Regions from separate parts of the Homo sapiens genome. Here region 1 is linked to region 2. Evidence: fine-mapped expression QTL. Tissue or cell type: whole blood. Region 2 holds a variant in brackets; the other region holds the start of a gene. All regions are shown on one strand. Distances are from middle to middle.

Region 1 (8,103 bases), 630 kb before region 2:
AGTTTGAGACCAGCCTGGACAACAACATGGTGAGACTCCATCTCTACAAAAAAAAAAAAAAAATTATTTTAAAATTAGCCAGGCATGGTGATGTACACCTGTAGTTCCAGCTACTTGGCTGAGACAGGAGGACTGCTTGAGGCCAGGAATTCAAGACCAGCCTGGTAAAGATGGCAAGACCCCATCTCTACATATATATATCTATAGATAGATAGATAGATTAATAGATAGATATGTATTAGCCAGGCACAGTCACACATGTTTGTAGTCCCAGCTACTTGGGAGGCTAAGGCAGGAGGATCACCTGAGCCCAGGAGTTAAGGGCTGCAGTGAGCCGTGATCACACCACTGCATTCCAGTTTGGGTGACAGAGTGAGGCTCTCTTAAAAAATTTAAAAATACTGAAGAAACAAAGGGAGGAGTTTGTAGAATCTGGAGTGGAGGAAACTTCTGTGTCACCAAACACAGAAACCATCAAAGAAAATCTTTCACTTCCAAAATTAGTCTATAGAAAAAAAAAAAGAAAATCTTAACCCAAATAAGAGACTGAGGCAAGAGCTTCAATCAATCGAGGTTTACTGAGCCAGAGTTGGAGCGTGCCCAGGAAAGCAACACAAGTCAAAGAAACGTCTGTGGCCTGTGCTCTCCCAAGAAGTTTTCAGGAGGCTCAATATTTGTACATTTCTTTAAAGGGGAGAAGACAGTGAGGCAAATGGTTATGTTTTTGTGAGACTCTTAATTAGTGTCCCGTAAATCTAAGCTATATGGAAGATAGGGTGAACACTGGAAGAACAGGGAGTAACAGAAGAGCCAATTATGCAGAGGTCTCAGGTTAGGTGGAGGAATGATTGATCTCATCTTATCCTTGTTCTGCACCTGGGCAGATAAACTTGTAATTGACATTGTCAGTGTGAAATTTAACAGACTTTGGTTTTAGGAGTTAGGTTTAGGTTGCAGACCTAAAGTTGCAGTTGACATGTCCTTGTTTTATAGGAGGATATACATCCTGAAAGTTTTAGGGACTGGCAAAGAATTTACTGCTGAGCAATTTGTGATTGCAGTCACCTGGAGATTCATGAGGCTTTTTGCCTTTTTGTGGGGATCTGGTTAATGCATAATATTTTGACACAAGGTTGCAAGGTAACAGGTATCCATTTGGGAAAAGAATGACAGTTTTGGAGAACATTAGTTCTGCAGCATAGAATGAAGTGTTGCCGGAATAAAATTAAAAAAAAAAAAAAAAGGCTGGGTGTGGTGGCTCATGCCTGTAATCCTAGCACGCCTGTAATCCCAGCACGCCTGTAATCCTAGCACGCCTGTAATCCCAGCACGCCTGTAATCCCAGCACTTTGGGAGGCCGAGGCGGGTGGATCACCTGAGGTCTGGAGTTCGAGACCAGCCTGATCAATATGGCGAAACCCCATCTCTACTAAAAATACAAAAATTAGCTGGGCATGGTGGCGGGTGCCTGTAATCCCAGCTACTGGGGAGGCTGAGGCAGGAGAATTGCTTGAACTCGGGAGGCGGAGGTTGCAGTGAGCCGGGATTGTGCCAGTGCACTCTAGCCTGGGTGACAGAGCAAGACTCCATCTCAAAAAAAAAAAAAAAAAAAAAAAAAAAAAAAGGAATGCCAGTGTTGTGTGGCTCAGTCTCCAAGCTTAACTCTCCCTTTAGCATAACAAATTTGGGGGTCCTGAAATTTTTATTTTCCTTTATGAAAAGATCAATAATCCATTTGCATAAAAAATAAAGTCTATATGGAAAAAGCCACCATCACAGCCAAAACACAAATAACAAACTGTAACTTGTTACAAACAGCATACTTGTAACTCATTTCAAAATAAAGAGCTGATTTCTCTAATATATAAAGAGCTCTCATAAGTCAATAAGAAAAAGACCAATGGTAGCCAGGCGTGGTGGCACATGCCTGTAATCTCAGCTACTCAGGAGGCTGAGGCAGGAGAATCACTTAAGCCCAGGAGGCAGAGGTCATGGGGAGCCGAGATCACACCATTGCACTCCAGCCTGGGCAACAAGAGCGAAACTCTGTATCAAAAAAAAAAAAAAGAAAAAGAAAAAGACAAATGGCCCAGTAGAAAGTGTGGCAAAGGATACAAACAGACCATTCACAGAAAAAGATAGATAAATAACATCTCTCAGGAAAGTACCTCCCAGTCACCCTTTGTTGGAAAGTTGTTGAAGGATGCACTTCAGCAAAATGAGGGAGTAAACCAAGAGACATAGGCTTAAGATCCAGGCAAGAGTGAGGCGCTTAGGAGCCCAGGAAGCCAGAAGAGCCTGGTAGCACTGAAGGAACACTCAGGCCACCTTGGAACAGAGAGGATGGGATTGCCATGTGGTTCCACATGGCTCTGAAAATAGACAATGGCTAAGCTGTGCAACAGACTGCCTATGACATTTGGTTGCCCAGAGCTTCTGTGAAAATACTTCAGGACAAGGCTTTCCCCCACCCAGGGGTGGGTTGGGGAATAGAGTGTATGCACTTTGTTTTGTCCAATTTTAGACTTTAAAATCCTCTGAGGCATCAACTGGTGAGGGTGAGGAAGTGGCCCCATAGACTGAATTGGGCCTGCCCCACCCTGGTACCTTTCTGTTCTGTCACAGTGACAATTCACAGCTCAGAGGTCCTTTGGGAAACTTTCTCTGACATCGCCCCTATCCTCTTGCCAGCTGGATGAAGCAGCATCCACCAGAACTGCTACCATCACTGCAGGGGGCTTGGTGGGCAGAGGCCTGGCTTGTCTCCATTAGCACTGCGTTCCTGTGCCCAGTGTGGCCCCAGCAGACACTGTGGGTTCAGTCAATCAGCCCCCAGGCTGGTCTGGGACTGAGTCATCGGAGGGAGTGGGTGTTGGGCACAGGTCCCTGCCCTAAGAACCTTCCTTCTTGGGCCCGAGGAACTCCCACTGGGGCAGGACTAGCTGCTGGGAGGAAGTAGGGCTTACTGAGCGTCTACCTGGGCTAGGGAGTGGAGGTGAAGGTGGACTCCTCATACAGCTCATATGCAGGCACTGGGCTGTGGAGCCTTAGCCGCTTTTAATTGGCAAGCCCTGGCTTCCTGGAGGAGGAAAGGGGAAGAGAAGTGCCCTGGGGGCGAGGATTGAGTCAGCTGCATTGTCATAATGGAAATAGTACAGCCCTGGGTGTCCAAGACTTCCCCTCCATGGGCCTCAGAATCGTCCATATGATGTAACACTCTTTTTTTTGAGACTGAGTCTCGCTCTGTTGCCCTGGCTGGAGTGCAGTGGCTCCATCTCGGCTCACTGCAACTTCTGCCTCCTGGGTTCAACCGATTCTTGTGCCCCAGCCTTCTGAGTAACTGGGATTACAGGCGCACACCACCACGCTTGGCTAATTTTTAGTACAGACGGGGTTTCACCATGTTGGCCAGGCTGGTCTCGAACTCCTGACCTCAAGTGATCCGCCCGCCTCGGCCTCCCAAAGCACTGGGATTACAGGCGTGAGCCACTGCCTCCGGCCAAAGTAACACTTTTGCACAGGGAGTTGGACTTGAGTGACAAATGGGTGACAAAGTGCTTTGTTAACTCGCAGATGTGAAGGGGACACTGCGGCTGACCGCCTGGTGACAGCTAGCCAGTGGTTGAGAGACCGCAAGATGGTTCCTCGTCTTTCACTTCCCTCCGTCCCAGGTCTGAACTCGGACCAGCTGGAGCCTTTGGGGGACCACGGATTCCCCTTTACACTCACACAGATTTCTCTTGTCCGTCACTCACTCACAGTCCAGTAAGGATCCTGCTGTCTATTCCGCGAAGACATCTTGAATGCAGGGACAGCCATTTGGAAGACTGTCCTCGAGGGTGGCAGCAGCCTCTCAGGACGGGGAAAGCCAAGGTGCCCACTAAGCCCGTCTGGGGTGGAGGGTGGCAGGCCGGGGTGGAGAGGATTGGAGGCCGCCTGAAGGAACCTGTGCTCGGTGGCATTTACTCAATGTGGGGGTCTGACACCTCCCAGCTCATTTTGTCCCCATCTTCCCCTTGCGTCAGGTCCCCACCCAGCAGGAGGAGGTCCGAGGATCTGCGCGACGCTGGCCCCGCGGAGTGTGGGGGACTTTTCCTCTCAACCACCAGTGCCCCGCAAGCGTGGGTGAACAGTCCTCCCTGGCTACTGTGGGACGCTGGGCAGGCGACTTCGCCTCTCTAGGCCTCGGTTTTCCTGCTTGTCAAATGGGGCTGATGCCGGCGTGGGCTTCTTCAGGCGGTCGCGAGCGTTGACCCCTGGAGTCAGCGAACCAGCCGCGCACGCACTCCCGGGCGGAGGTCGGGGCTGGGGGGCGACGCCTCCCGTCTGCGCGCCCCCGGCCCCGCCTCCCGCCGGCGCACCCCTCCCTCGGCTCCGCCCGCGGCCCGCTTCTTCCTCCCGCGGGCGGCCCAGCCCTAGCGCCCCGCGCTCCGCGGGCAGCCCCCTGCCGCCGCGCCATGTCCGCCGGCTGGTTCCGGCGCCGCTTCCTGCCTGGGGAGCCGCTCCCCGCGCCGCGGCCGCCTGGGCCGCATGCCAGCCCCGTGCCCTACCGACGGCCCCGCTTCCTTCGCGGCTCCAGCTCCAGCCCCGGGGCGGCCGACGCCTCGCGCCGCCCAGACTCCCGGCCCGTGCGCAGCCCCGCACGAGGACGCACGCTACCCTGGAATGCAGGCTACGCCGAGTGAGTGCCCCTCCCCGACCCCCAGCTCAGGCCCGGGCCTGAACCCGCTTCGGGTCCTGCGCCCGCCTAGAAAGCGGGAGGAGCTGAGTGACAGTCCCCACCCACCTGTGGACAGCCCCTTCTTGCCCTCACCTCCGAATCCTGACAACTTCCCGGTCATCCCGACCCAGCGTTTTCCTTGGGATTCCGACCTCCCCCTCAGAGAAGACAGGAGGTCGGGAAGGACCTGCAGCCCAGGGGCTTCCAAGATGAGGCCCAGAGACTCGGTAGAGTTCCAGCATTCGGGGCTTTGGAGATTTCCCCTCGCCCTCTACCCCCACCATCTCACCCTGGGTATGACCTGCGCTGTATGGGACAGGGCTTTGGGCTGCGACAGGACAGGGGCAGGAATGGCAACCTACCCTTACCGTCTAGCCCTGGGTCACCAGGTAGGCTCCAGAGGAGCTGGGCCCTGACTTTTACCTTAGCCATGAGGCCAGTGAAGTTAGGAAGCTTACATCGTGGTTGTCTAAGTGTGTGTTAGGGACAGCACTGGGGAGCTGTTGCCCCAGAGGGAGGGGTCTTCTCCCTGTGCTGGCTTGGGTCCCTGTGCCCATGGGGACATAGGTGTGTCCCTGGAGGGTCGCTTACCATTTCCCGGCCTCAGGATTATCAATGCAGAGAAATCTGAATTCAATGAGGATCAAGCCGCCTGTGGGAAGCTGTGCATCCGGAGATGTGAGTTTGGGGCTGAAGAAGAGTGGCTGACCCTGTGCCCAGAGGAGGTGAGTGCAGTCTGAGTTCTTGGCTGGAATCCCTCCGACAGGCTGGGGCCACGACCTGCAGGCTGAGGTTCTTACCCTGCTGCCCCAGGTCCTAGTTAGGTTGCGTCAGGGGACAAGTGGGGAAGTCAGGCAGAGGCTGACACTGAGCCCTTCCTGTGCAGTTCCTGACAGGCCATTACTGGGCACTGTTCGATGGGCACGGCGGTCCTGCAGCAGCCATCTTGGCTGCCAACACCCTGCACTCCTGCTTGCGCCGGCAGCTGGAGGCCGTGGTGGAAGGCTTGGTGGCCACTCAGCCCCCCATGCACCTCAATGGCCGCTGCATCTGCCCCAGTGACCCTCAGTTTGTGGAGGAAAAGGGCATCAGGGCAGAAGACTTGGTGATCGGGGCATTGGAGAGTGCCTTTCAGGAATGTGTGAGTGTGTGGCTTTTGGCTGGGGAAGAAGTGGAGATTTTGCCCCGGGGATCTCAGGAAATGGCATCTCTGTATACCCATGGTCATCACACCAGATCCTTGGATTGGGAGGATGAGATTGGGTTGGTTGGATTGTTACTAACAGCCATCACTATCAGCATAACCCCTCTCATTTATCCAGCACCTACTGTGTGCTAACTGCTTTTACCTGCATCATCTAATTGAATACCCTATTGGTCCTTGGTGCAGGGGCTGGTTTCTCTTCCTATTTTGAGTAGCACTTCCCTTGTCTAGATCTCCTGACTGCAGGGATCTTGGAGGTATGGCTGGACTTTGGGCTGGGACTGTCAGGCCTGCTGGTAGAAGTGAACTGTAGGGTAGGGTGGGGATTGAGAGACAAAGTAGTATGGTGGCAGAACAGGCAGCAGCTAAGGTGGCCTCGGTTTTCCCCAGGATGAGGTGATCGGGCGGGAGCTGGAGGCCTCAGGCCAGATGGGCGGCTGCACAGCCCTGGTGGCTGTGTCCCTGCAGGGAAAGCTGTACATGGCCAATGCTGGGGATAGCAGGTGAGTCACCCCTTGGAGGGTGGGCAAGGGTGGGATGGGGAGGGCATAAGCAGCAATGGGGACAAGCAAAGGTGGCTGGAAGTGGAGGGATAGTAGGAAGGATTGACTGGCTGAATTGTGTGTGTACTTGTTATGTGTCGAGTGTGGACAGTGGCTGCCGGGGAGGGCAGGGACCTCAAAGGCCCCGCTAAAGGGCTAAGCCTTCACCCTTGCAGGTCTTAGGTAGTCATGGAGGGCTTTAAGGGATCATCATGGACAGAGCTGGATCCTGGTGGTTGGAGGAGGGACTGGTAGGAGGGTGGCCATGGGTGAGGGTGGAGGCCTCCTCCTAGACCTCTCCCTTCTCTCCTCAATCCAGGGCCATCTTGGTGCGGAGAGATGAGATACGGCCACTGAGCTTCGAGTTCACCCCAGAGACTGAGCGGCAGCGGATCCAGCAGCTGGTAGGTGCCCTTGGCAGCATGGAGGCTGTGAAGCTCCAACTCCTGGGTCCAGGGCCATAAGAAGGAGTATGACCTGAGCGCAGCCTCCCCACCCCAGGCCTTTGTCTATCCTGAGCTTCTGGCTGGTGAGTTCACCCGACTGGAGTTCCCTCGGCGGCTGAAGGGGGATGACTTGGGACAGAAGGTTTTGTTCAGGGATCACCACATGAGTGGCTGGTGAGTGGGGATGGGGGACAGGTAGGAAGGGAGACCCCTGGGATCCAGGCCCAGCCGTATGGCCTGGGGCCCCCCTCCACCTTGGCAGGGTGGCACTGTGAGGGTGTGACAGCTGGGCCCTGAGTTGGGGAAAGATGAGATGGGGCACAGGGCTTGGGTTGATGCTGGCTCTGCTCCTGGTAGGAGCTACAAACGTGTGGAGAAATCGGATCTCAAGTACCCACTGATCCATGGACAGGGTAGGCAGGTCAGTGCCTGGTCCTCCTCAACCCCAAGAATCCCTCTTCATTGTCCCCTGCAGAGGTGGGAGCTCCTTTGCCTCTTGCTGGTAGCTGTGGCTGGTGGCCTGGGATTTGCTCTGAGACTAGGAATTTTCTCTCTCAGTCCAAGGCTTCCAAGGGCCACAGTCCACCTCTCCCTGTGTGCTCTGCAGTGCTAGGGCCTGGTACTTGTGCATTTGCTGGAGCTGTTTGCCATCGCCTCACACCTCACTTTCCCTCAGGCTCGGTTACTAGGAACACTGGCTGTCTCCCGGGGCCTGGGAGACCATCAGCTCAGAGTCCTGGACACAAACATCCAGCTCAAGCCCTTCTTGCTCTCTGTGCCACAGGTAAGGGGGCAACGCTGTCCAACCCAGCTTCCATCTGCCCAGAAAGGCAGACAGTGAGGCTGGTGGGAGTCGGGAAGGGAGTGTGCAGGATCCTCAGGCTTAATTTGTAGGTGACTGTGCTGGATGTGGACCAGCTGGAGCTACAGGAGGATGATGTGGTTGTCATGGCAACTGATGGACTCTGGGATGTACTGTCCAACGAGCAGGTGGCATGGCTGGTGCGGAGCTTCCTCCCTGGGAACCAAGAGGACCCACACAGGTACTGTAGCTGCTGGGGACCTGCCTGGGCCTGGGTTGGTGCCAGCAGCAAGCCCAAGTAGTTATGGCTGAGAAGACAGAGCACTGACAATGAGCTGGCAGCTGGCCAGGATCAGGGCTGTCTCAAGCTTCTTGGAGGAGGCAGGGAG
Region 2 (8,103 bases):
GGAATTCATTCAGTCTGTCACTTTTAAGCCATATTTACTGAGTCCTGTCCAGGTGTTTACTGTCAATTCAACAAGTTTCATGAATTTCTGTGATGGGTTCTCCCAGAAGCAGTTTGCAAGTTATTAGTCCTACAACAGGAAGGACTAAACTGCTTTGGTTATGGATGATGTAAGCTGTACGCAAGACTGTCAGAGGCCAACTACTCCAAAACTTTCTTCCTCGTAAATAACTGGAAGTCAGGATGAACTGGCTCGGCAAAGACTCCCTCACCATATCTGACCTGATTTTTAATTATCTATTTTTTTAATTTTATTTTTTGAGACGGAGTCTCGCTCTGTCGCCCAGGCTGGAGTGCAATGGCACAATCTCGGCTCATTGCAACCTCCGCCTCCCGGGTTCAAGTGATTCTCCTACCTCAGCCTCCTGAGTAGCTGGGATTACAGGCATGCACCACCACACCCAGCTAATTTTTGTATTTTTAGTAGAGATGGGGTTTCACCATGTTGGCCAGGCTGGTCTCAAACTCCTGACCTCCAGTGATCCACCCACCTTGGCCTCCCAAAGTGTTGGGACTACAGGTGTGAGCCACCACGCCCGGCAACCATATCTGACCTTAAAAACAAGAAGCTGATAATCTGGTCTAAGTGCTCATGAACATTTTTTGGTAAAGACTTAATTTCTTCTGAACCAGATGAAGCCCAGGTTCTAAGTTTAGCCAGCTTTAATCCTGCTCCATGGAGGTTTGGCCGAAGGCTGAGAAATAAATAACAAAAACAAAAAGCAACAACCTCCCCCCACCACCCTAAATTGTCTAGCAAATAAATATGCTAAATTCTCTGAACACAGGCCTCCTTGAAACCACTGCTTCCCCCAGGAGCAGGGCTGTGGTGTCATCTGCTAAGATAATGATGGCAGTAGGAGCGAGGGGGCATTATCACTGTATGTGTGTTCCATGGGGGATTCTGTTTGATGGAAAGAAATACAAATTGCTGATAAACACATATGCAACCTTAATAACAGCAATTTTGAAGATGCAAATTAGTATTGATTTTTGCCCAGATTAGCAAAGGTTAAAACATTTGGTGAGGATATTAGGAAACAGGTACTCTTAAAACACTGGTAGAAAAGCGAGTTGTACAACCACTTGGTAAGTGTGGGGAAGTGGATTTGCAATTCTCGGCTCCAGAACCACCCAGGTTAAAGAAGTCATTAAACTGGTACCAAGGGTAGCCTCAGTGAACTAACTGAGCCTTCTGGGAACCAGACACTAGAGGCAGAGATATCAGAGTTGCTGCTCCAAGAGCCCTAGGGGTGGGGTGGGAGGTGCAGGGATGAGGCTTCCAGGATGCAGAATTTGACCTAAGAGCCAAGAGGCGCTGGGGACCTGTAAGTACTTGCTAATGAGGGCTTGTTAGTGTACGTTCTTCCTGAATACTGATGGAAGCCCCAAGAATAATGGGGCTGTCCTGGAAGGACCCTACCCTGTGAGCCAGTATCCTGGGCAGCTGGGGAACTCACAGAGAAATGCTGCATCTGCTCCTGCCATGCATCACCACTACACTGCTAACTCCAATTCCCTGGACAAATAAATTCAGGAATTTCATTCAATCTCATAGCGGGCAACGATATGTGTGTGTGTGTTTTCCACCAGTCCACAAAACACATGAAAAGTTGCGTCAGGTTATTTTGGCATATCTATCACGATTTTAAATGTTTATAAACTGTGACTCAGCTTTTCCTCTATAGTTACACCTCCACAAATGCCCACAAGTCTGTGTAGAAGAGCACTCACTGCAGCATTGTCTTTAAGAGTGGAAGATTTAGAAACCAGCTAAATGTCCATCGATAGGGAAGGGGTTGATCATATGTGATTATGCAATGGATGTCAACTGTGAAGTATACTTACAATGCGTGAGTTTTATGGTACATAAATTATACCTCAATAAAACTATTTAAAAAGTGAGGTAGATCTATCTGCATTGAAATGGAAAAAACCCTCATGCTAAATGGGGGGAAAAAAGCAAATCATTAAAACGGTCAATGTGTAATGTGAACCTATTTTTATACATCAACAAAAGATACACACACACACAGAAATTCAGAGGCATATACAATAAACTATTAACCATGGTTAGCTCTCTAGAGGATGGACTTACAGTGAACTGAACTTTCACTTTCTATGCTATGTCTTTTCATAATGTTTTAGTTGCTTACAGTGAGAATGTATTACTTTTGTAGTAACAACAAAAAAGAGGCTGGTCATGGTAGCTCACACCTGTAATCTCAGCACTTTGGGAGGCTGAGCCGGGCGGATCACTTGAGGTCAGGAGTTTGAGACCAGCCTGGCCAACATGGGGAAACCCAGTCTCTACTGAAAATAAAAAAATTAGCTGGGCGTGGTGGCTACTCGTGAGGCTGAGACACCAGAATCGCTTGAACCTGGGAGGTGGAGGTTGCAGTGAGCCAAAATCTTGCCACTGCACTCCAGCCTGGGCGACAGAGGGAGATTCTGTCTCAAAAAATAATAATAGATAAATAAAATAAAGGTCTCTGCTGCTAAAAACAATAAATTAAAAATGACTAAATTACAATTTTGCACATTAGATAATTAAAAACCTTCCTCAAACCCAACTCATTTAGAAAATCTCCTTCTAAGAGAAAAGCTTCCAGCAGGCAGAACTCACGAGAGACGGAAAATGCGCCACTTTAGTCTGCAACTGAACCCACATCAAGGAGGTCTAGGATCACTGCTGCGCTGTTATCTATGGTAGATGGGAGGTCCCTGTGCTCCTGTATGCTAACAGGCATAAGCTGGAATAAAATGTTCATTGTGTATGTTTCTACTTTTTTGTATTCCCCAGTTTCACTACCTCTTAAAAATTAACAAATAGTTCTAATTTGTGTTGGATAAGAGGACCTTGACTATAAAAAGTTTTCTTTACCCAAAGAACTGACCTTCACTGCAACCTTGTGGTTAGTCAAATTCTTAGAAGAAGGCATGGCCGTGGAGTCTGCATTTCTCAGAGGTAACACGTGTAGCCCCTGGCCAGCCCCACCACAGAAGCTCATCCTCAGCTCAAGCAGCACAGACATTAATCTCTCTGCCTCCTAGTCAGAGGAGACACCTGCTGGCCCCCTCACACAGTGGCCCCATCACACAGCAAATCGCAGGTTAGATTTCTGTCCCCGTAACCCAAGGCTCCCACACCATTCTAGCTGCTTAGAGTGGTCCCAACTTGGCAGAGAACAGAATGAATAACGGGTATGGAGAGGGGTACTTTTGATGTTGTTTTCACTCTTTGAATCTGGAAGGAAAGGGTGGGAGTCTTGAGGTCCACCTGTCAAGAGTTAAGTCCAGAAGCCAAAGGACATCAAAGTTGCCAATTCACTTAACTGGGTCACTCAACTTACTAGGATAAACCCCCAGTGCAGTAGGTTTCATTCATAAAGATGATTACACCTGCCCTCTTGACATCTGTAGGTCAAATACTTTAAATGCCATTCCCCAGCAGGGGTGGAGGGGCCACTCAGCCGGCCCCCTCCCTCATCCAGAAGCCCTTGTGAGCACTGAGAGGTACCCATGAGCAGCCAGCTCACCTGGAGAAGCAGTGTGAGGGTGGCTGGCAAGGACAGGCTCACCTGACATGATCCCCAACAGCACCCTGCTTTACCATCAAAGACAGCCTCCTCTACTCCCTAAAGCCAGTATGCATTCAACTGAGTTCCCATGAGGAGATCTGAGAAAGTCTCATCACATAAGGTGTTATCAACATCAGCAATACTGGTGGCCCTAGACACTTAAGCTAAATTAATTCCATCATTCCTCACTCAACCCTAGGAAGTGGATAGAATCATCCTAATTTTCAGATGGCAAAACTGATGCTCAGAGCAGTTAAGGAACTTGCTGAAGTCCAACAGGCAGCAAGCACTAGGGTCAGGACCAGAACCCAGGCCACTGCTGACCCTCACCTACCACTGAACAGCAAGGCACCAGCATCAGGACTGATGGAGCCTGGTCCCTTGATACAAAACGCAAAGCTTATCAAACTTGGGCCTTTATGTGCAACCCAGACAGCATTATCGAAAAACAAGAATGGCTTCTAAAAGAGAATTAGCTTAGAACACTTAAATCTACAGTTGGCCCTTGAAGAACATGAGTTTGAACTGCATGGGTCCACTTATACACGGATTTTCTCCCATCTCTGCCACCCGACACGGCAAGACCAACCCTGAATCCTCCTCCTCCTCGGCTTTCAATTTGAAGATCAAGAGGATGAAAACCATTACGAACACAAGTTTTC[A/G]TGATAATCCACTTCCATTTAATGAATAGCAGATACATTTTCTCTTCCTTATGATTTTTCTTACTAACATTTCTTAATAACATTTTTTCTCATTTTATTGTAAGAATACCATATATAATACATATATAAAATATGTGTTAATTGGCTGTTTATGTTATTGGGTCAGGCTTCTAGTCAACACTAGGCTATTAGCAGTTAAGTTTTTGGGGAGTCAGAAGTTATATGCGGGTTTTCAACTGTGTGGAGTGTTGACTGCTCTAACCCCCACGCTGTTCAAGGATCAACTGTGGGTGGAAAAACAATTCAAGAATGTTATTCTACACTGAAGGTAGGTGGCTAGTGTCTACATTTATAATATATACATAGTCCAAAATTTCAAGGCTTGTGATAAAAAGTCAACTCAAGTCTTAATGCAGGTTAAAACTGAGAATGGCCATTGAAGTTCACTGGCACAGGCCACACTGGCTGAGTCCATAACAGGTCTCCTCTGACACACCCTGCCTGTGGCTGCTTCTGCCATCACTCTTTAACACAGCTCACGCTTTTGGGCAACCCAGTGCCTGCCTCTGCCAGACCAGCCTGAAGCTGGGAGAGGGAAGGAAGAAAGCCCATGTTTACCAAGAGTGTGCAACATCCCTCCACCTTCACATGCCTCAGCCACCTGCCACTGGCTGCGGCTCCAGGCTTGTGCTCTTGGGCTGTCATGACCAAGTGGCACAATGTTAGGAAGGTCAGTTCGTAGGTGGGAAGAGTTCCCTTTCTCATGCCATAGTCTAGAACAAACTCCCTGGACAAACCAATGAGCATAAGTAAATGTGTGCCATGGCAGGGGGCACAGAAACAGCAGTAAGAGTAGGCATTGGAGGGGAAAGGGCAGAGGCCTAGGACAGAGGAATTCTGGGTTCTAGTCCTGGCTCAGCCTCTGACCTGCTGGAAAGTCTCCGGTGAGCCATTCAATCCCTCCAGTTCGACCTGTACATGAAGTCTTGGATTAAGCTGTATTTTCCCAATTCTAATAACTGATGACATGGTGTGAACTGTCCTACCTCCCCAGGGTTGTGTGACGTGGCGGCCAGTCAGCCATGGTGGGCCTCAGTGAGCTAACACTCAGCACCCACCCTGCACCCGGCAGTGCCAAGCACTGTATCTCACTTAATTCTCATAACCCATTAAGATAGGTAATCACTGGCCGGGTGTGGTGGCTCACGCCTGTAATCCCAGCACTTTGAGAGGCTAAGGCGGGCAGATCACGAGGTCAGGAGATCGAGACCATCCTGGGTAACACAGTGAAACCCTGTCTCTACTAAAAATACAAAAAATTAGCCAGTGTGGTGGCACATGCCTGTAGTCCCAGCTACTCGGGAGGCAGAGGCAGGAGAATAGCATGAACCCGGGAGGTGGAGCTTGCAGTGAGCTGAGATCGCGCCACTGCACTCCAGCCTGGGCGACAGAGCAAGACTCCGTCTTAAAAAAAAAAAAAAAAAAAGACAGGTAATCACCTCCCCTATCTTGAGAAGAAGAAACAGTCTCAGACAGATAAAGTCAGACAGCACTGGAAAAACTACCATAATGTGGCCTGGTGGTCATGAGAGGCAAGGGACCAAATTTACGCAGTCTGATGCTAGACACCACGCATGTGACCAACAGGCTGTACCATCTCTGTTCCCTGGTCTAGGAACCCTATGGTCCAGGCTATACCACCTCATGCCCTGGTCTAGAAGTCTGATGGTCCTGGCTGTACCACCTCTGCTCCCGGGCCTAGGAACCCTATGGTCCAGGCTGTATCACCTCTTTGCCTGGTTTAGGAATCCTATGGTCCTGGCTGTATCACCTCATTCCCTGGTCTAGGAACCCTGTGGTCCCGGCTGTACCACCTCTGCTCCCTGGTCTAGGAACCCTATGGTCCTGGATGTATTAGTTTTGTTTCCTTGTGTAGAAACCCTACATTCCTGGCTACACTATCTCTGTTCCCTGGTCCCTTTGGATGACAAAGACTTTTCTCCCTGATTGTCTCGTGAGCCTACCTAAATGCATTTTTATTCTGATAGCATCGAACAGAAACATCTCCACTGGTTTTCCAAGGGCACACACCTACAACCAAGAGAAGCTGGCTGGTTATGAAGCTACATAAAGAAGTCAAGGACAAGTCCAAGTTCAGAGGACCAGCTCCCCAGGGTTCCAGAAGGCCATATCTAACCTTCTCAACAGATAAGAGCCGATAGGACACTGCCTTCAGGAGTGGGTGGGACTGCCAATAGCATGGCAGATGAGCAGTCTACTGAGAGGCTCCAACGGCAGTGCAAGTGCACGGATGTTGCGATAGCATCCACTGACTTTGTGAGGGTGTTACACCTTTACTCAAGCAAAAAAACTCTTCTTCTGGGAACACTGGGCTTTACCTTAGAATTTTATTGATGGAAGAGAATTAATAAGCATGCTAGGCAGAACAATTAAAGGAAGACCAGTTCTTCTCATGATACTAGAATTATTAAATTACACATAAGACCTTTGCCCTAGCTCCTCAGCCCAATGAAGTTGGCACCCAGAGTCTTCTCCTTTCAAACCATACAAGTTGTGTAACTAGGCAGATCTGAGAAGAGAAACAACAGAGCTCATGTCCTCAGTCCCCAGGCCTACGAGTCAGGTGGCCAGAGACAGGGCAGCAGACAGCAGCCAAGGCAGCCTTTGACCACCAGGAGGCTTGGGACCTTAACAAATCATCACCCGCTATGAGCTAAAATACCTGTAGCCCTACTTGGCCGGCAGTGGGAATCCCTTCCAGAGTAGTCTGATGGATACTTCAGGAGCCTTGAGGTTCTTCTCACAGCTACTGACGCCTCTCCTCCACTTAGGAAGAACAGGAGGACCAGGAGGGAAGAACAAGTGATACACGAGAAGCATGTACACCAGTACAGGGGGATATACAATGTAAATAAACCAAGACTCTGAGAACTGGGAACACCGGCTGCGTGAGGAAAGGGAGAGTCTCAGTCAGAATAGGATTCCTCAACTCCCAATGCTCACTTTGTTCATCTCTCTACTTAGATCTCTCAAATTTTCCTTCCACAAAGGAGCTGGAAAAACCACCATCACATGGCATGGAAGTCATAAAAGGCACCATGAAATTAAGTTTTTCTGCCCCTCTTGTCCTATCATGCAGAGTGCATGGTAAGCACCCCAAGGCATGAGGCTGGCAGAGAGCTTGCTTAAAGAACACGTGGAAAAGGAGCTCTGCCTCCTAGCCAGCCTCCTTCCCTGAGGGCTCTGAACCCTAGCTACATGAAGTGAGGGGAAGCCACCAGAGCCTCTGGAATTCTGGAGACGGGCTTGCTGGGTGATGTTTCTGGGGTTGTATCACAATGATGTCTTCTTTGATTCCTGCCTTCCTAAAATTCTAGAAAGAACATAAATCAACCCCAGAGAATCAGCATGCTCTGGCCCTGCTATTTCTCATTTGAAACAGGTTTGCTATGCCAGCTCCCACTCAGAAAGGCCAAGCATAGTTCATGAGATCCTAGATAAAAGGAGGCTTAGGGCCCGGGTGGGGCCCTCCAACCTGTCCTCAGACTCTCCAACCAGGCAACGGTGTGCATCAAGAGAGTCCCAATCAGCACGCATCCTTCTGACGTGCTCTTCACCAAGCCACCTGCAGGAGACTTAGCTTCGCACACCTGATGCTATACAAGAGGGACCAGATGTGGGTGGGGCAAGCACAGAACCAGAGAAAGCAGAGTTAAAACACTGTCAAGAGTGGACCAAACAACAAATATGTACAATTATTACATATTCATTATAAGTAAA

The links. PIP is the estimated chance that this variant, and not a neighbour inherited with it, causes the effect.
Region 1: PPM1M starts here. The variant in region 2 is fine-mapped to the expression of PPM1M in whole blood (TOPMed, PIP above 0.99).

The regions. Positions count from the first base shown.
Region 1 is chr3:52,241,368-52,249,470 of GRCh38, forward strand. It overlaps PPM1M (protein phosphatase, Mg2+/Mn2+ dependent 1M), which reads left to right and starts at 4,392. Exons shown (of 10, transcript NM_144641.4): 1 at 4,392-4,681; 2 at 5,328-5,445; 3 at 5,607-5,861; 4 at 6,315-6,427; 5 at 6,786-6,870; 6 at 6,968-7,086; 7 at 7,270-7,333; 8 at 7,589-7,696; 9 at 7,807-7,955. The coding sequence starts at 4,458. RefSeq lists silencers at 4,266-4,635, 4,676-4,735.
Region 2 is chr3:52,872,325-52,880,427 of GRCh38, forward strand. The region is part of intron 1 of STIMATE-MUSTN1 (STIMATE-MUSTN1 readthrough); the gene reads right to left. The region is part of intron 1 of STIMATE (STIM activating enhancer); the gene reads right to left. Among named protein-coding and RNA genes, the nearest start is that of STIMATE, 21 kb to the right of the region's middle. RefSeq lists a silencer at 219-489. The variant A/G (reference allele first, on the strand shown) is at 4,303.